2 separate regions of the Homo sapiens genome follow, and region 2 is linked to region 1. The links come from fine-mapping of genetic effects on gene expression. Tissue or cell type: testis. Region 1 holds a variant in brackets; the other region holds the start of a gene. All regions are shown on one strand. Distances are between the middles of the regions.

Region 1 (8,352 bases):
TTTTTTTTTTTTGAGACAGTCTTGCTCTGTCTCCAGGCTGGAGTGCAGTGGCATGATCTCGGCTCACTGAACCTCCATCTCTCAGTTCAAGTGATTCCCCTGCCTCAGCCTCCCGAGTAGCTGGGACCACAGGTGTGCAACACCACTCCCAGCTACTTTTTCTGTTTTTGGTAGAGATGGGATTTCATCATGTTGGCCAGGATGGTCTCTATCTCTTGACCTTGTGATCTGCCCACCTCAGCCTCCCAAAGTGCTGGGATTACAGGCATGAGCCACCGTGTCTGGCCGTGGGAACATTATGTTTTAACTGTGAAACAAACTAATTTGGTGGTAGTGGAGAGAACACCCTGTTAAATATCCAAAACGTATTTTTGCATTATTTTCAATAATTCTAGTTTTTTTTCTGTCTTTCTAGGGTGTGCCATGTGACTTGGTGACAGGTGAAGAGCGTGTGACAGTTCAGCCAAATGGGAAACAGGCTTCACATGTTTCTTGTACAGTTGAGATGTGCAGTGTTACAACTCCTTGTATGTATATGCTGTTTAAGAAACTATGGTTTGGTATTTTTAATTTTTTTTTTTTTTCAAGACAGAGTCTTGCTCTGTTGTCCAGGCTGGAATGCAATGGTACTATCTCGGCTCACTGCGACCTCTGCCTCCCCAGTTCAAGCGATTCTCCTGCCTCAGCCTCCCAAGTAGCCGGGATTACAGGTGCCCGCCACCACACCCGGCTAATTTTTGTATTTTTACTAGAGACGGGGTTTCTCCATGTTGGTCAGGCTGGTCTCAAACTCCCGACCTCAGGTGATCTGCCCACCTCGGCCTCCCAAAGTACTGGGATTACAGGCGTGAGCCACTGCGCCTGACCATGGTATTTTTAATTTTAAAATACACTTGAACATGTGAAATACGATTTTTTTGTGTGAAGAAAAAATTTTAAAATCTAGAAAAAGAAGAGAATAAGTATGACAAACGTGCGATCCTGCCACCACTGACAAATGCCTGCACCTGAAGTTCTTTCCCTTTTTCTCTTAAAAGAGCTGAAATGTTAATAAGCATAATTGAAATTTCCTTTGTACCACTCTCCAGTTTAATTCCTCTCTCCTCTTTTGTTCTAACTGGTAACAGATATTTGGTGTGTATAGTTTTCCTGTCTCTTTTCAGGATATATATTATATCACTGATACGTATTACCAGTATTCTAGATTGTTGTGTTTTAAAACATTTATGTGATTATTGTATTATTATTGTTCTACCACTTGCTTGTTTACTCCACAAATGTGTTTAGATCTATCTAGTCTTATTGAAGTATCTATAGCTACATATTTGTAGTTATTTCATTTAAACTGTTTTATAGTATTCCATCTTAGAACTGAAATTATTTGTTCCCCATTTGTTAAAGGATATTTAGGTTGTTTAAAGTTTTTTCCTGTTATGTACACTGCCACAATGAGCTTCTATTTAAAGTTGTTTTGTTTTGTTTTTGAGTCAGGGGCTCACTGTGTCACCCAGGCTGAAGTGCAATGGCGCAGTCATGGCTTACTGCAGCCTCGACCTCCTGGGCTCAAGCAATCCTTCTGCCTTAGCCTCCTGAGTAGCTACAACTACAGGTGTGAGCCACCACACCCAGCTAATTTTTTATTAATAAATTTTTTGTGGAGATGGGTTCTTGCTGTGTTGCCCGGACTGGTCTCTAATTCCTGGCCTTGTGTGGTCCTCCCACCTAGGTCTCCCAAAGCAGTGGGATTACAGGTATAACCCACCGCACCTGGCCTTAACATTTAAGTGAAAATTAACTTTTTCCTTATTATGTAAGCAATCATATCTTCATTATTGAAAATATAAAAATGTAAGCAAGCAAACAGAAGAAAACAAATGTACATAATTTCCCAGTCCCACCTATCCGGAATCAATAGGTGTTAATTAACCCTATATATTTTCCAGACTTTGTTAATATTTGTGTTCATGTTGTGTATGCATATAGTTATATGTGCATGGTGGGTGTGTATATTAAACAAATAGGAAGGTACTTTACTATTTGGTAGCTTGCTTTTTTTCATTTTAATAATCAACTTTGTGAGAAGAATAGTTTTTAAAAAATCAATACATTATAAAGTAATATATTGTACAGTTGCACAGAAGTTTATAAATCAGAATTTCTTCTCTATGTCTTCTCTTCTAGTCTTGTTTGTACATATCCAGATCACGAAGTAGTTTTTTTTTTTTTTTTTTTGAGACAGGGTCTCACTCCTGTCGTTCAGGTGGGAGTGCAGTGGCACGATGACAGCTTATTGCAGTCGTGACCTCCTGGGCTCAAACAATCCTCCTGCCTCACTTTTAAATTTTTCTTTTGTAGAGAAGAGGTCTCACTTTGTTGCCCAGGCTGGCCTCGAACTCCCGGGCTCAAGCAGTCCGCCTCGCCTCGGCCTCCCAAAGTGCTGGGATTACAGGCATGAGCCACCATGTCCAGCCTCAATAAGTAATTTTTAATCTGATGATTGTTCAATATAAAATTAGCTTTCTTTACTTTCCTAAGTGTCATTGTATTTTTAAATGTTCTCTTTTCAATTCTGTAGTATTTGGGGAAGAAAGTAAAATATAATATATGAATTACAGGGAATAGAATAAGGTATTTGGAAGCATTTTAGCTTTAGAAAATGAGATGAGACACTACTTTTTGCCATAGCGATGGATTTAAAACCCCTAAGGATGAGCATGACTGAGGCCCAAGGAATTATTCCTTCCACTTCACTTTCTGCTCCTGAGAGCTGCCTGGTTTCCTGTGGTAGAGATGCTTCATTAGTAAATGAAGGGCTGTCACCTCCTTGTTCTGGAACTTGCCTTCTTCTTTTACTTCTGTCCAGATGTGATAGTTCTCATCAGAGAAATTCTCCAGGCTGTCTCTTAGATTGCAAAAAAACAGGACAAGTGGAACTGCTCAGTGTGGGAGGCAGTGTGGTAGAGTATGTAAGAGTATGGACTTGGAGCTGGATGTGGTGACTTGTGCCTGTTAATTCTGGCTACTTAAGAGATTGAGATGGGAGGATTGCTTGAGGCCAGGAGTTCGAGACCAGCCTGAGTAACATAGCAAGACCCTCATCTCTAAAGAAAAAAAAACCTTTTTTTTTTTTGAGCTGGAGTCTTGCTGTGTTGCCCAGGCTCGAGTGCAGTAGTGCAATCTTGGCTCACTGCAGGCTCCGCCTCCCGGGATCAAATGATTCTCCTGCCTCAGCCTCCAGAGTAGCTGGGACTACAGGCGCACGCCACCATGCCCGGCTAATTTTTGTATCTTTAGTGGAGACGGGGTTTCACCATATTGGCCAGGATGGTCTCGATCTCCTGACATTGTGATCCACCCGCCTCGACCTCCCAAGAAAATGTTTTTAAAATTAGCTGGTCATGGTGCTGCGTGCCTGTAGTCCCAGCTGCTTGGAAGCTGAGGCAGGAGGATTGCTTGAGCCTAGGAGTTTGAAGTTACAGTGAGCTATGATTGTGCCACTGGACTCAGGCTGTATGACAGTGAGACACTGTTAGGAAGATCACTTTCAACCCAGGAGTTCAAGGCCATCCTGAACAACAGTGAGACCCTGTATCTAAATTAAAAAGAAAAAAAAAAGAGTATAGACTTTGGAGCTAGATGGCCTGGGTTTGAATTTCATCTCTGCATTTAACTGTATAACTTAAGGCAAGTAACTTAATTTCTCTGGGCCTCTGACTTTTTCTGTCAAATGGAGATAGTGATAATACTTAACCTCATAGATTTGTTGTGAGGATTAAAGAGGAGGTACTTAAGAGGAGGTAAAACACTTAGAACAAACCTGCTGGAAAAGAGGAACCCAGTAAGTGATGGTGGTAGTGGTGATGGTGATGCTTGAATTTTGGTGTTGGAATTTGTTTATAATACTATTTAAGTAGATGGTATTGCTCATGTTAACTTTTTTATTTTAAGATGAAGTGGCTGTAATTGATGAAATTCAAATGATTAGAGATCCAGCCAGAGGATGGGCCTGGACCAGAGCACTTCTAGGTTGGTGGTCGTAATGCTATAAAACCCGTGCTTTATGACATCTGCGCTGAGATGCATTTTTATCTGCTTGCCATTGCCAACCAAATAGAGTCACCTAGAACCTTTCTTTTTGACACAAAAAAGTAAACTAAGTATGAGTTTTTATTTTCTAAATATTATTTTAATAATGGGAAATCTATTTTTTCCTGTGCTAAAACTAGCATAACCATGTAATTAAAGTTAAAATGTTCAAATCTCATATTTACACAACTACAATTTATGTTTTGGTGTGTTTCATGCTAGTCTTTTCTTTTTTGTATGTGCATATGGTGTTTTGAGAACATTAGTTTTGTATCTTGCTGTTTTTCATGTGACATTTTTCATTATGTATTAATATGATCGCATATCTCTATTGAAGGGCAATACTGTAATTTGCTCCATAGAGTTGAACCTTTTTTTCCCTATTACTAATAACGCTGCAGTAAAAATCTTTGTGGCCAAAGCTTTTTATTTTTTGAGACAGGGTCTTGCTCTGATGCCCAGGTTGGAGTGTGATGGCGCAGTTGTGGCTCACTGCAGCCTTGACCTCCTGGGCTCAAGCAGTCCTCCCATCTCAGTCTCCCGAGCAGCTGGGACCACAGCTGTTTGCCAACATGCCCCCTGGTTAACTTTTTAAATTTTTTGTAAAGACAGAGTCTCCCTATGTTGCCCAGGCTGGTCTTGAACTCCTGGGTTCAAGCACTCTTCCCACCTCAGCCTCCCCAAATGCTGGGATTACAGGCATGAGCCACTACACCCAGCTTATTTTTTATCTTTT[T/C]AATTATTTCTTTAGGATAGGCTCCTGTAAGTGGAGTTCTTGAGGTCCATAGACATGAATGAACATTTCTACTGCTTGATGTTGGAGTGAATTTTTGATCATGTTTTAGGGCAGATGTTTTCAAATTTAAAAACAAATAGCTGAACTTGGCTGGGTGCGGTGGCTCACGCCTGTAATCCCAGCACTTTGGGAGGCCGAGGCTGGCCGATTGCTTGAGGCAAGGAATTCAAGACCAGCTTGGCCAACATGGCGAAACCCTGTCTCTACTAAAAATATAAAAATTAGCCAGGCGTGGTGGCGCATGCCTGTAACCCAGCTACTCCAGAGGCTGAGGCACAAGAATCACTTGAGCCTGGAAAGGAGATATTGCAGTGAACCACAGTGAACCGAGGTCATGCCACTGCACTCCAGCCTGGGCGACAGAGCAAGACTCTGTCTCATGGAAAAAAAAAAAAAGGCTGAACTCTTTTTTTAAACAAAGAGTATACATTGAAGCCTGTTATGTAAAATACATGGAAGTGGATCTGCTCGGGGATAAGGAGCTTGGAGTTTCTTCTGCCCTCCAACCCCCAACCTCTGAGGTACCTCAGCGATTCCATGGAGCCTAATTTGAAAAACACAAGTATAGGGTCTGTGTTCAGTACTTAGCATCCAAATGCCAGCTTCTAATCCTGGCTCATTTCACTCTGATAGAGTTGAAACTTTGGCCAAAGCAATTTAAAAGGCCTGAGATTAATAAAAATTGGATAATCTTTGCCCATTAGAAGTTGGTGATTATTTCAAGGTTTGCATCAGAGATAATATTTTTGAAAATACTTGGTAAGGTTGTAAAGCAATATGTAAGCCAACGTAAAGTACTTTGGCTATGTAAAATGTTGTATATTTAATTATAAATCTTTAAAATTAAGAAACCCAGTTTTGCATTGACAGGACTGTGTGCTGAAGAGGTTCATTTGTGTGGAGAACCTGCTGCTATTGACCTGGTGATGGAGCTTATGTACACAACGGGGGAGGAAGTGGAGGTATTCGATTAGATGCTTTGTTCTCCAGGTGGCATATCAAATAGTCCAGAGTACCTAGGCAGTGGCTTCAGAGGCCCTAGATAATGCCAGCGTCAGAACTTAACTAAAAAGAAAGCTTCATTTTCTTGTGATCAACTAGACCATATATATTTGATTGAACCTCATGATCTGAAGTTCTGACAGAGTGGTCATCACACCCTAAGTCTTCCAAGAGTACAGGAAATTCTTCACTTCTTGACAAAACCTTGTGGGGCTTGAGTAGATCTCTTCGAATTAAATAAATCAGTACTCTTAGAAGTTGGAGACCCAGCAAGTTTGTCGTTTTCAAAGTGTTGTATGTCAGATATTGGGGCCTTTGATACACATCTAATTGCCAGACACAGTTTATATTCCTTTTTGAAATTCTTAGAGTTGGAAGTAACTGGTTTCCTTTTAATCCTGCTTCTCTTTTTCTTTACCAGAGTTCTATAGTAAAATGAATTATTATTATTATTATTATTTTTTGAGACAAGGTCTCACTCTGTTACCCAGGCTGGAGTGCTGTGGTGCAATCACAACTCACTGCAGTCTCAGCCTCCTGGACTCAAGTGATCCTCCCACTTCAGCCTCCCAAATAGCTGGGACTACAGGTGTTTGCCACCATGCCCATCTAATTTTTTATTTTTTGAGCAGAGGGCATCTCACTGTGTTACCAAGGCTGGTCTCGAACTCCAGTGCTCAAGCAATTCTCCCACCTTGGCCTCCCAAAGTGCTGGGATTATAAGCATAAGCCAAGGAAATAGTTTTGAATTAGCCTGTTATTTTAGTTTTGTGCTCAGTTTTCAAGGAGAGATAGTGGAATATAGTGGAAGAAATTTTGGAGTCCATTCTGTGTTTTGCCATTCTTAGCTTTGCATTCTTTAGACAAGTCACAGAAGGTTAGACTTGCAAAATGTGCCTCAGACATTAATTTTTTATTGGGCTCAGTTTTACTATTTTATAAAATGGAAATAGCAGTTAATAACCTTTCTGAACTTAACACATTGCCGTGAAAATGAAATATATGAGAAAAAGCTTTGAAAACAGGTGAAACACTCTGTTTCATCTTATTAATTTAGAGATGCCAATGAGAAGTGATGGTAACACTTATAATATCAAAATAAATGTTTTTCTGTGTTTTCTTTTGAAAAACATTGGTACTTATCAGTTTTTAGCTACTCTTAACTGCATTACAATCTTTTCACTTAATTACTAGTCACAAGAAGTTGAGTTGGGTGTGTCATTTTGCCATTTCATGTCTTTATTGTAGGTTCGAGACTATAAGAGGCTTACCCCCATTTCTGTGCTGGACCATGCACTAGAATCTTTAGATAACCTTCGGCCTGGGGACTGCATTGTCTGTTTTAGCAAGAATGATATTTATTCTGTGAGTCGGCAGATTGAAATTCGGGGATTAGAATCAGCTGTTATATATGGCAGTCTCCCACCTGGTAATTATTGACTTTCCTCGTGACAAGATATGAAATCTCCTATCTTTGCAATTTATGTTGAGATATATATAAAAAAATGGTAAACAATATTGAATTAAGCTGCTTGATGTATTGGTAATTTGTTAAACGTCATATAAAATAAATAATTTTCTATTTCATCTTAGTGGAAATAGAAGTATTTTAATTATAGTTCTTGTTAGTTGCTGCTATTATTAGACTGTATCTTAAATGTTGAGTTTATTATTTTCTTACAGAAATGTCATTGAAATCTGGTCTTGACCATGTCCTTTTAAGTTGTAGTCCTGAAATCTGTGTCCTCAGGAATAAGGCTAGTGTGGTGGGGGATTGTGTTGCTATATGACGGAGTATTTGAAGGAATGGATGTAAAGGATAAGTGGCTCTTTGAGGATATAAAGAAATAAAGTTTGAAACAGTAAAGGTTTTATCATTAAAAATGGGAAGAACAGGAGGTGAGGGTTTCCAAGATGTACTTAGCTTGATGTAATAAAAGACTGAGAACACTGATTTAACATAAATTGTTCTTGTTTTAGGGACCAAACTTGCTCAAGCAAAAAAGTTTAATGATCCCAATGACCCATGCAAAATCTTGGTTGCTACAGATGCAATTGGCATGGGACTTAATTTGTAAGTAATTTGTTTTTAATAAGATGAATATTTGGTGAGTTAAATGGTGGTTTTTTTGTTTTTCAGTTTTCTAATTGGCATTAATGACCAAACGCTATGATTTGGGAGAATAAATATTATAGGCTAGATTTGAGGTTTGTCTTGCCTACACCTATTGAGGGAAATAAAAAGAAAATATTAAATAGTGCCAGGACTTTTCTTAGGGACAGGGTCTTGCTCTTTTACCCACGCTGGAGTGCAGTGATCAAATTGTAGCTCAGTGCAGTCTTGAACTCCTGGGCCCAAGTGATCCTCCTGCCTCAGCCTCCAGAGTAGCTGGGACCACAGGTGCACACCACAAAGCCTGGTTATTTTCTTTTTTTTTGGGTAGTGACAAGGTCTTACCCTGTTGCCC
Region 2 (8,000 bases), 24 kb after region 1:
GCTGGGATTACAGGGGTGAGCCACCGTGCCTGGCCAAGCTTTTTTATATAGCTTTTTAACCAATCTCTTGTTTTTGGCTCTATGTCTTGCCCCAGACCTCTGATTCCTGAGCATTTTAGAGTTTTACAAACGTCACAGCTCCTTTCTCACCCGAGTCACCCTCTGCGGGCACTCAGGTTTCAGTGTTTGCTCTACTAAGCAATTACTTCCGTGAGCTTCCTGTCTTCCAGAATTATGTTAAGATCTCTTATCAGTCACTGTTTCCTTTCTTTTTGTCCTTGTAGGTTAATGCCGTGTTTAACCAGAAGTCTCATTTGCTTTGAAAAGTTGGTTATTTTGTGCAATTGAGATTGTAATTATTCTGAAAAATGTTAAAAGTCACATGAACTGCATTTTCTTGTATGGCTTTTCTTTCCTTGATAGGTGTTTTGCAAATATGACCCTTAATGTACAGTTGTGATTTAGAAATCATGTCAGAATTTCTTCCTGAGCATTCCTTGTCTTCGGTTCAGAATAAACCTGTAAAAATGATTAGCAGCATTCTTTTGAAACTTGCTGAGGTTAGCATTTCTGCTTCATTTGTGGCTGCTCCGATAGAGACACCATTGTGACTGTAACCACTGGCAGCGTTTGGAAGTCTCTACATTGGTTTTCTTATTATGGAAGTTTGCTCTCCCACACAGTTTCTGATTCTTTTGCAGCAAGTGGAATACCAGCAGGTCACACTGATTTATGTTATGACGACTTAACTTTGGACTTACCATTAAAAAGAATACAGGGCAGAATTCAAGAGCTGTTTTCTTTAGTAACAGGAATAGAATTTCCATAAAATTCCCAACTGTTCCTTTAATTCCAGTACATGGAACAGGTACTTTCTAATGGTTTAGGATCATGCCTTACTGAGTGGACTGAAAGGTCTGCACACATTTTCTTATCCCAAGAGACCAAGTTGGGTGAGCGAAGAGGGGTCCCCAGCCAGGGAAAGGCTGAGCTTCAGGAGATGCTTCTAGTGTGCCCACTGTAGACCACATGCCTTTCCTTGTGTGATAATTTGCTTTCTTTCTCACTGTGACCACTGACATAGCTATGAAGCTTTTACAGATATGAATATAGACTTGGACCTTTACCTGCAGTTTAAGAAAAGCCAAAGTAGGACCCCAGGGCCTGTGCACTTTCCACTGTGTTAGAAAGAGCTTAGGGCCATTTTTCCAGCTGAGGCCCCAAGTCTCCCCGTGCCTTGTTTCCAGCCTAGCCAGTGTAGCACAGCGGGCAAGCAAGAACTCTGCAGCTAGACTGCCTGCGTTCAAATCTCGATTTCACTGCGTCCCAGTTGGGCTCTGTGCCTTGGTTTCTCCATCTGTAAAATAGGGAGAATGACAGTTACTGTGGAATTAATATCGTAAGACATCTAGTAAACCCCATGGGGAAGTGTTTGCTAAATAAATAGGTAAATTTTGCTGGACTTCTAGTCCTCCCACCATACTCAGTACTTAAAGAGAAACAGAAATTATCTTTGAGCCTTGCCAAAACGGACCGTGTAGATTAAAGTGGAGCTCTATGAAACGGAGATGTGTCTACAGATGGGAGAGTTTCCCTTCTTACATGGAAGATTTGGGCCAGATGGGTGATACGCTTTAACTAAAATGTCACTTGTCAGTGTCGGCCCTCAAATGGGTGTTCTTAAGCAAAATCCAACTACTTATAAGATTTAAACCTAGATATCCTTGAATAGCCAATAGAACTGTAGTAAGGGTGAAAAATCCCAAGACTTGAATTGGAGTAATCAGATGAGGAATGATAAAATAACCTAATTATTTTGTCTTGATTCTATAAAGTGAGAGGGCTGAGCTAGATGACTCCAAATGCATGTGATCTCTGTAATCATTAAACTTCCTGGTTTAGTCACCTTACTCAGGCCTGGAATGTAGACGCTAATGTGCTCAGATTAAAAAGGGAATGATGCAATAGATGAAAATCCTCTGGTGTCATTTGCCTGATTAAAATTCCAAAGGCTGCCTATCTGACTCACACAAGCAACCGTGAGATTACAGAGATCTTTGGTTATGGTTTGCATCTTTTGACCACTGGCTACTGTAACCTCTTATCCCTATGTCGAACAAATCAATGACAGTTGGTTCATACTGCACTGCCCAGGTTACATTTTTTTTTTTTTTTGAAATGGAGTCTCACTCTGTTGCCCAGGCTGGAGTGCAGTGGTGCAATATTGGCTCACTGCAACCTCCACCTCCTGGGTTTAAACAGTTCTCCTACCTCTGTCTCCTGAGTAGCTGGGATTGCAGGCACCCGCCACCATGCCCAGGTAATTTTTGCATTTTTAGTAGAGACAGGGTTTCACCATGTTGGCAAGGCTGGTCTCGAACTCCTGACCTCAGGCAATCTGCCCACCTCCCACCTCAGCCTCCCAAAGTGCTGGGATTACAGGTGTGAGCCACTGCGCCCAGCCCAGGTTACTTTTTAAATGGGGGAATTAAATGCTGGGTGTGGTGATGCAAGCCTGTAGTCCTAGCTACTCAGGAGGCTGAAGCCAGAGGATCACTTGAGCCCAGGAGTTCGAATCCAGCCTGGGCAAGACTGGATGGAGTTCAAATCCAGCCTGGGCAAGACAAGATGTAGTGAGACTCTGTTTCTGAAATAAATCAACTAGTGGGGGAATTAGGATAAATAATGTCATCACTTACGGGCAGATGGCCTTCCCAGGATGTTATCCTCAGCCAATGGGGGCTAGGGCCTAGGATGCGCATTTCAGAATACCAACAATTCCACCTGGTTTGGGGCACTGAATGGTTTGGGGAACTAAAGGTTCATCTTTGTTTGCTTGTGTAATAAAGGAGCAAGCTAAAAGTCATAGTCTGAGGGTAAATTGACTGAAAAGGATGGGGATCCTCAATCTGGGAGACAGTTTTAATATGCTTATATCAATCTGAATAAAGCATCTGGAGTAATTTTAACCGAGCCTCCTCTGCATTGTGGGCTTAAGTGAGACCTGATGGCTCGTCCACACGGCAATGGGTAGAGAGCACTGAATTCCAGCTACTCAGGAGGCTGAGGCAGGAGAATTGCTTTAACCCAGGAGGTGGAGGTTGCAGTGAGTTGAGATTGAGCCACTGTACTCCAGCCTGGGCAACAGAGTGAGACTCTGTCTCAAAAAAAAGAAAAAGAAAAACAAATTCTTAACATCCCAACAGAATGCTGCTACTAATAGTTATCAATTGCGTATCTATTGAGTATCTATTGCGTGGAGAAAGCAGGGCTGGAGAGCCAATGCCATGTATTATAGCTGGGCCCTGGAATCAAACTTCCAGGATTGACCCCTTGCTGTCCTGTTTATGGCTTTGTGATCACGTAACCTTTCTGGGCCTCAATTTTTTCATCTATAAAATAAGAGTGGGCCGGGAGCAGTGGCTCATGCCTGTAATTCCAACACTTTGGGAGGCTGAGGTGGGTAAATCGCTTGAGCCCAGGAATTCAAGACCAGCCAGGGCAACATGGCAAAACCCTATCTCTACAAAAATACAAAAATTAGCTGGGCATGGTGCCACGTGCCTGTAGCCCCAGCTACCCTGGGGATTGAGATGGGAGGATCACCTGAGCCCAGAAGGCTGATGTTGCAGCGAGTCATGATTCCACGACTGCATTCCAGCCTGGGGGATGAATGAGACCCTGTCTAAAAAATAATAATAACAAGAGTAATAAAAACAAAATGGGATTGGTAAATGCTCCATCCATGTTAGCCGCTGTTGTTAACGCTGTTGTTATTGGTTTCATTAGCCAGCCAGTGACTGTGGGAAGAGTGCAAGGTTGATTGTACCCATGTATTGGGTGCTTTCTGGGTCCTTCTCATGTCAAGTATGATGAGTGAGAAGTGAGTGAATAAAACATCTCAGTGGCCTGAGACATTTCTCTTTTTTTTCTTTTTTTGAGATGGAGTTTTGCTCTTGTCACCCAGGCTGGAGTGCAATGGCGCGATCTCGGCTCACTGCAACCTCTGCCTCCCAGGTTCAAGTGATTCTCCTGCCTCAGCCTCCCAAGTAGCTGGGATTACAGGCACCTGCCACCACTCCTGGCTAAGTTTTTTGTATTTTTAGTAGAGATGGGGTTTCACCATGTTGGCCAGGCTGGTCTCGAACTCCTGACCTCATGATCTGCCTGCCTCGGCCTCCCCAAGTGCTGCGATTGTTACAGGCGTGAGTCACTGCACCCGGCTGGACTGAGACATTTCTTATCTGTGACTTCCTTCTCTCCAGCAGTGATTCCCAGTGAGCACTGGTGACTTCAGTTCACTCTTTCTCAGGAATATTTTTTCCTGGGTCACTACCTGTGAACTAAAGATTTTCTGGCTTAACACTGTGAATAGGTAAACATTTATTGATCATTTTCTGTTAACCATGGGCTATTAGTTAAGAGATCTGATCTGTCACAAATGGAAGAATCTGCCCCAACATTCTTGAAATCCCATTGACCAGGACAATGTTTAGTTTTAGTTAGTTCAGTGCTTCTGAGGAGCAGGGGGTCACAGAGTTATGCCACTGGCATAAAAAACTAAAGAGAAAAGCCTGGGACTGGAAATTTGCAGAGCAGCTCCACCGGTTGAAAGTTGGCTTTGTTTAGTGCCCAACTTCGCAGAAGATTTTCCTCGGCTGAGTGGGCTTGGCAGAGCCCCGGCTTGAGAGGGTTGCTTAGCAATGAGATTTGGTGGCACCCAATTCTCAAGTAGTCAAGCAACCCATCAATACCCTGCTTCCCCCTCCACTAAACCTCAGCTACCATCCAGAGCCTCCTATTAGACAATCAAGTGTGTGCCAGAGGGAGGGACCAAAGGGGTGGGGTGGGGGGGAGTTTAATCATTGAACCAAGCAGGCTGGAGGTATTTAGTCCGCAACACCTCGCTCCCCAGGAGGTCTGCCAGCCTGGACTGGAAGCGTGCAACACTCCAGAGTCGTAGGAGTGAACACTGCACAGGAATCTCTGCCCATCTCAGGAGAAACCAAACTTGGGGAAAATGTTTGCGGTCCACTTGATGGCATTTTACTTCAGCAAGCTGAAGGAGGACCAGATCAAGAAGGTAAGGAGGACCCACGAAGCTGAGAGATGCCCAGCTCCTTCTTCACGGACAAAACTGATTCCCTTAAAAAAAAAATCAGAAGGGAGTGAAGAGAGCTTATTAGAAAAGATACTGGGAGCATATGACCAGTAAAAGACTCACTGAGGGAAGAGGGAGTAATTCTCCCACACTCCTGGGCATTGCATTACTGTCCTGAACCTTACACTTCACTCGGAACTTCCTGGCAGGTATTGGATGCGGAAGCGGGTGAGGAGGGTGTTTGGAAAGCTTGAAGAGGATTGTGTTTGCTGTAAGGGATGTTTGCTCGGAAAGGCCACAAAGGCGAGGAGAATCATTTTCAAAGAAGTTTTAAGAACTGTTGGAGCAGAAGGCTGGGCGCAGTGGCTCACGCCTGTAATCCTAGCACTTTAGGAGGCCGAGGTGGGCGGATTACCTGAGGTCAGGAGTTCGAGACCAGCCTGGCCAACATGGTGAAACCCCGTCTCAACTAAAAATACAAAAATTAGCTGGGTGTGGTGGCGGGCACCTGTAATCCCATCTACTCGGGAGGCTGAGGCAGGAGAATCGCTTGAACCCAGGTGGTGGAGGTTGCAGTGAGCCGAGATCGCGCCATTGCACTCCAGCCTAGGGGACAAGAGTGAGACTTCATCTAAAAAAAAAGAACTGTTGGGGCAGATCTGTTTGTTCATGTATTTGAAAGCATATAAATGTGGGCAGCAAGAAGGTGTGAGTTGCAATAGACAGTAATTGAAATATCTATTATTGGCACCTGCTATTTGCCAATGGTACACTATTCATGGTGTGCATTATTTTGTCACTTTGCTCAGGGAACTTGTCTACAAAATTCATTCCAAAGTGGGCTGGTTAAAGGTTGCCAAGGGTCAACAGGAGGGAACCAGGGTTCTTTCCAGGCAGCTAAAATGAGCCCAGTCTGCTACTCTGGCCACACCGGCTGGCTGTCACGGCCCTGGGCAAAAAGCATCTCTCAAAGTGCAGATGACAGAAGTCCTCCTAGCAGGAGGACTTAGCCAAGGTCACCAAGTATTTAGGATGGAATGAGGATTAAATCCAAGTTGGCTGACTCTTCCTTCAATGCTTTCTGCTGTGCCATGACTCCCTCCTGCTTTACAAAATGAATAAGGAGGCCAGGCACCGTGGCTCACGGCTGTAATCTGCATACACTGGGAGGCTGAGATGAGCAGATCTCATCTCAAACTTGAGGTCAGGAGTTTGAGACCAGCCTGGGCAACATGGAGCAACCCCATCTCTACAAAACATGTAAAAATTAGCCGGTCATGGTGGTGTGTGCCTACAGTCCCAACTACTCGGGAGGCTGCGGTGGCAGGATGGCTTGAGCCCGGGAGACTGCGCTACTGCACTCCAGCCTGGGTGACAGAGTGAGACCCTGTCTGAAAAAAAAAGGAAAGAAAAGAAAAAAAAAGGCCAAGGATGGTGGCTCATACCTATAATCCCAGCACTTTGGGAGGCCAAGGTGGGTGGATCACCTGAGGTCAGGAGGTTGAGACCACCCTGGCCAACATGGTGAAACCCCGTCTCTACTAAAAATTTAAAAATTAGCTGGGCGTGGTGGAGTGCGCCTGTAATCCCAACTACTCAGAAGGCTGAGGCAGGAGAATCCCTTGAACCCGGGCAGCAGAGGTTACAGTGAGCCGAGATCATGCCATTGTACTCCAGCCTGGGCAACAGAATGAGACTCCGTCTCAAAACAAAACAAAGAAAGAGAGAGAGGAAGTGTGGCCCCTTACAGCCCTCAGGTACTTGGTGGGATAAACTCCCACTAAATTCTATTCATTTAGAGAGTTGAGTTAGAGGTTGTAGCAAATTTAAAAACATTATAAAGCAATCACTTGTTGATTAGATTCAGAGCCCTCTACTGGCTACTTAAGGAGGCGCTGCCTAGGAATCCACTTTCTTTTGTTATCTGCTTAGTAAAGGCACAAGTTGCACCATGTCTCTCCCACCCCCAAGGGGGAGCCTTTGGAACCCTGAAACCTTTGATTCTGCAAACTTATTTCATTTCCTTGGGCTCCTTTGTGTTGGTTAACCTTTTGTACCCTAGGATCATGCGGGACATGTTTGTCCAACAGCCCTGGTGCAGGCTCAGGAGCACCCTGTGATGGGAAATGCAGCCTCTGCTGATGGGCTCCAGGTCCTTCTGGAAGGACAGTCAGCCTTTTTCAATGCCGGGAGCTGACCTCCCTCTCCCTGTGGGAGGCGAGAAAGTTGGAAGCACTTTTATAGCCACCTTAAGCAAGTGCCCCAGGAAGTCTCTGGGGTAGTGTGGGAGACTGGTTTATGGCTGCTGGGCTGAGTCATGGTTCTGAGAACACTCCTCCCAACACGTGGTGGAAACACACCTGGTCAAAAGGCACAGCTCGTTTCTCTGCGGTCAGGCAGTGAGTCCCCTTCTTCGTCTCTGTGCTTCCTGCCTCTAGAATTGTCCAGATCCTGGGCCAGCGGTGCCTGCAAGGGTTACTACTGAGACCCTGGAACAATTTCTAAAAATCTTCCCATACCAGCATGGAAACAAAAATAAAACAAAATGAAAAAAACGAAAATAGAAACCACTCTGACAGATTCTTTTCCAATTCAATATATTGACATTATTTGACCTATTGATAGCACCAGGCCAGACCTGGTCACTGACCTGCAGATTGTTCATCCACAGGAGAACTGGGAGGTTTTCAGTGTGTATTTTTCATGGCTCTGTATGTCAACATTACAAAAAAGTGGAAATGTTACTTGTAATTCCACCTTTAATTTACTTTTAATCTCAAACACTTTCATATTTGCTGGGTGGAAGCCTTCCTAGTTTTTCTTCATCCTGTATGTTTTTAGTTATGTTTATAAGGTACATACAGTTCTGAACTGCTTCCCTCACTTACTGTTACAGTGT

The links. PIP is the estimated chance that this variant, and not a neighbour inherited with it, causes the effect.
Region 2: HKDC1 starts here. The variant in region 1 is fine-mapped to the expression of HKDC1 in testis (GTEx, PIP 0.99).

What each region holds. Positions count from the first base shown.
Region 1 is chr10:69,191,240-69,199,591 of GRCh38, forward strand. SUPV3L1 (Suv3 like RNA helicase) reads left to right here. Exons shown (of 15, transcript NM_003171.5): 6 at 416-527; 7 at 3,949-4,026; 8 at 5,753-5,844; 9 at 7,133-7,313; 10 at 7,865-7,958. Among named protein-coding and RNA genes, the nearest start is that of SUPV3L1, 15 kb to the left of the region's middle. The variant T/C (reference allele first, on the strand shown) is at 4,823.
Region 2 is chr10:69,215,416-69,223,415 of GRCh38, forward strand. HKDC1 (hexokinase domain containing 1) reads left to right here and starts at 4,917. Exons shown (of 18, transcript NM_025130.4): 1 at 4,917-5,083. The coding sequence starts at 5,021. It overlaps LOC101928994 (a long non-coding RNA gene), which reads right to left. Exons shown (of 5, transcript NR_120648.1): 3 at 7,752-7,810; 4 at 7,462-7,610; 5 at 1-1,357. RefSeq lists an enhancer at 2,774-2,943.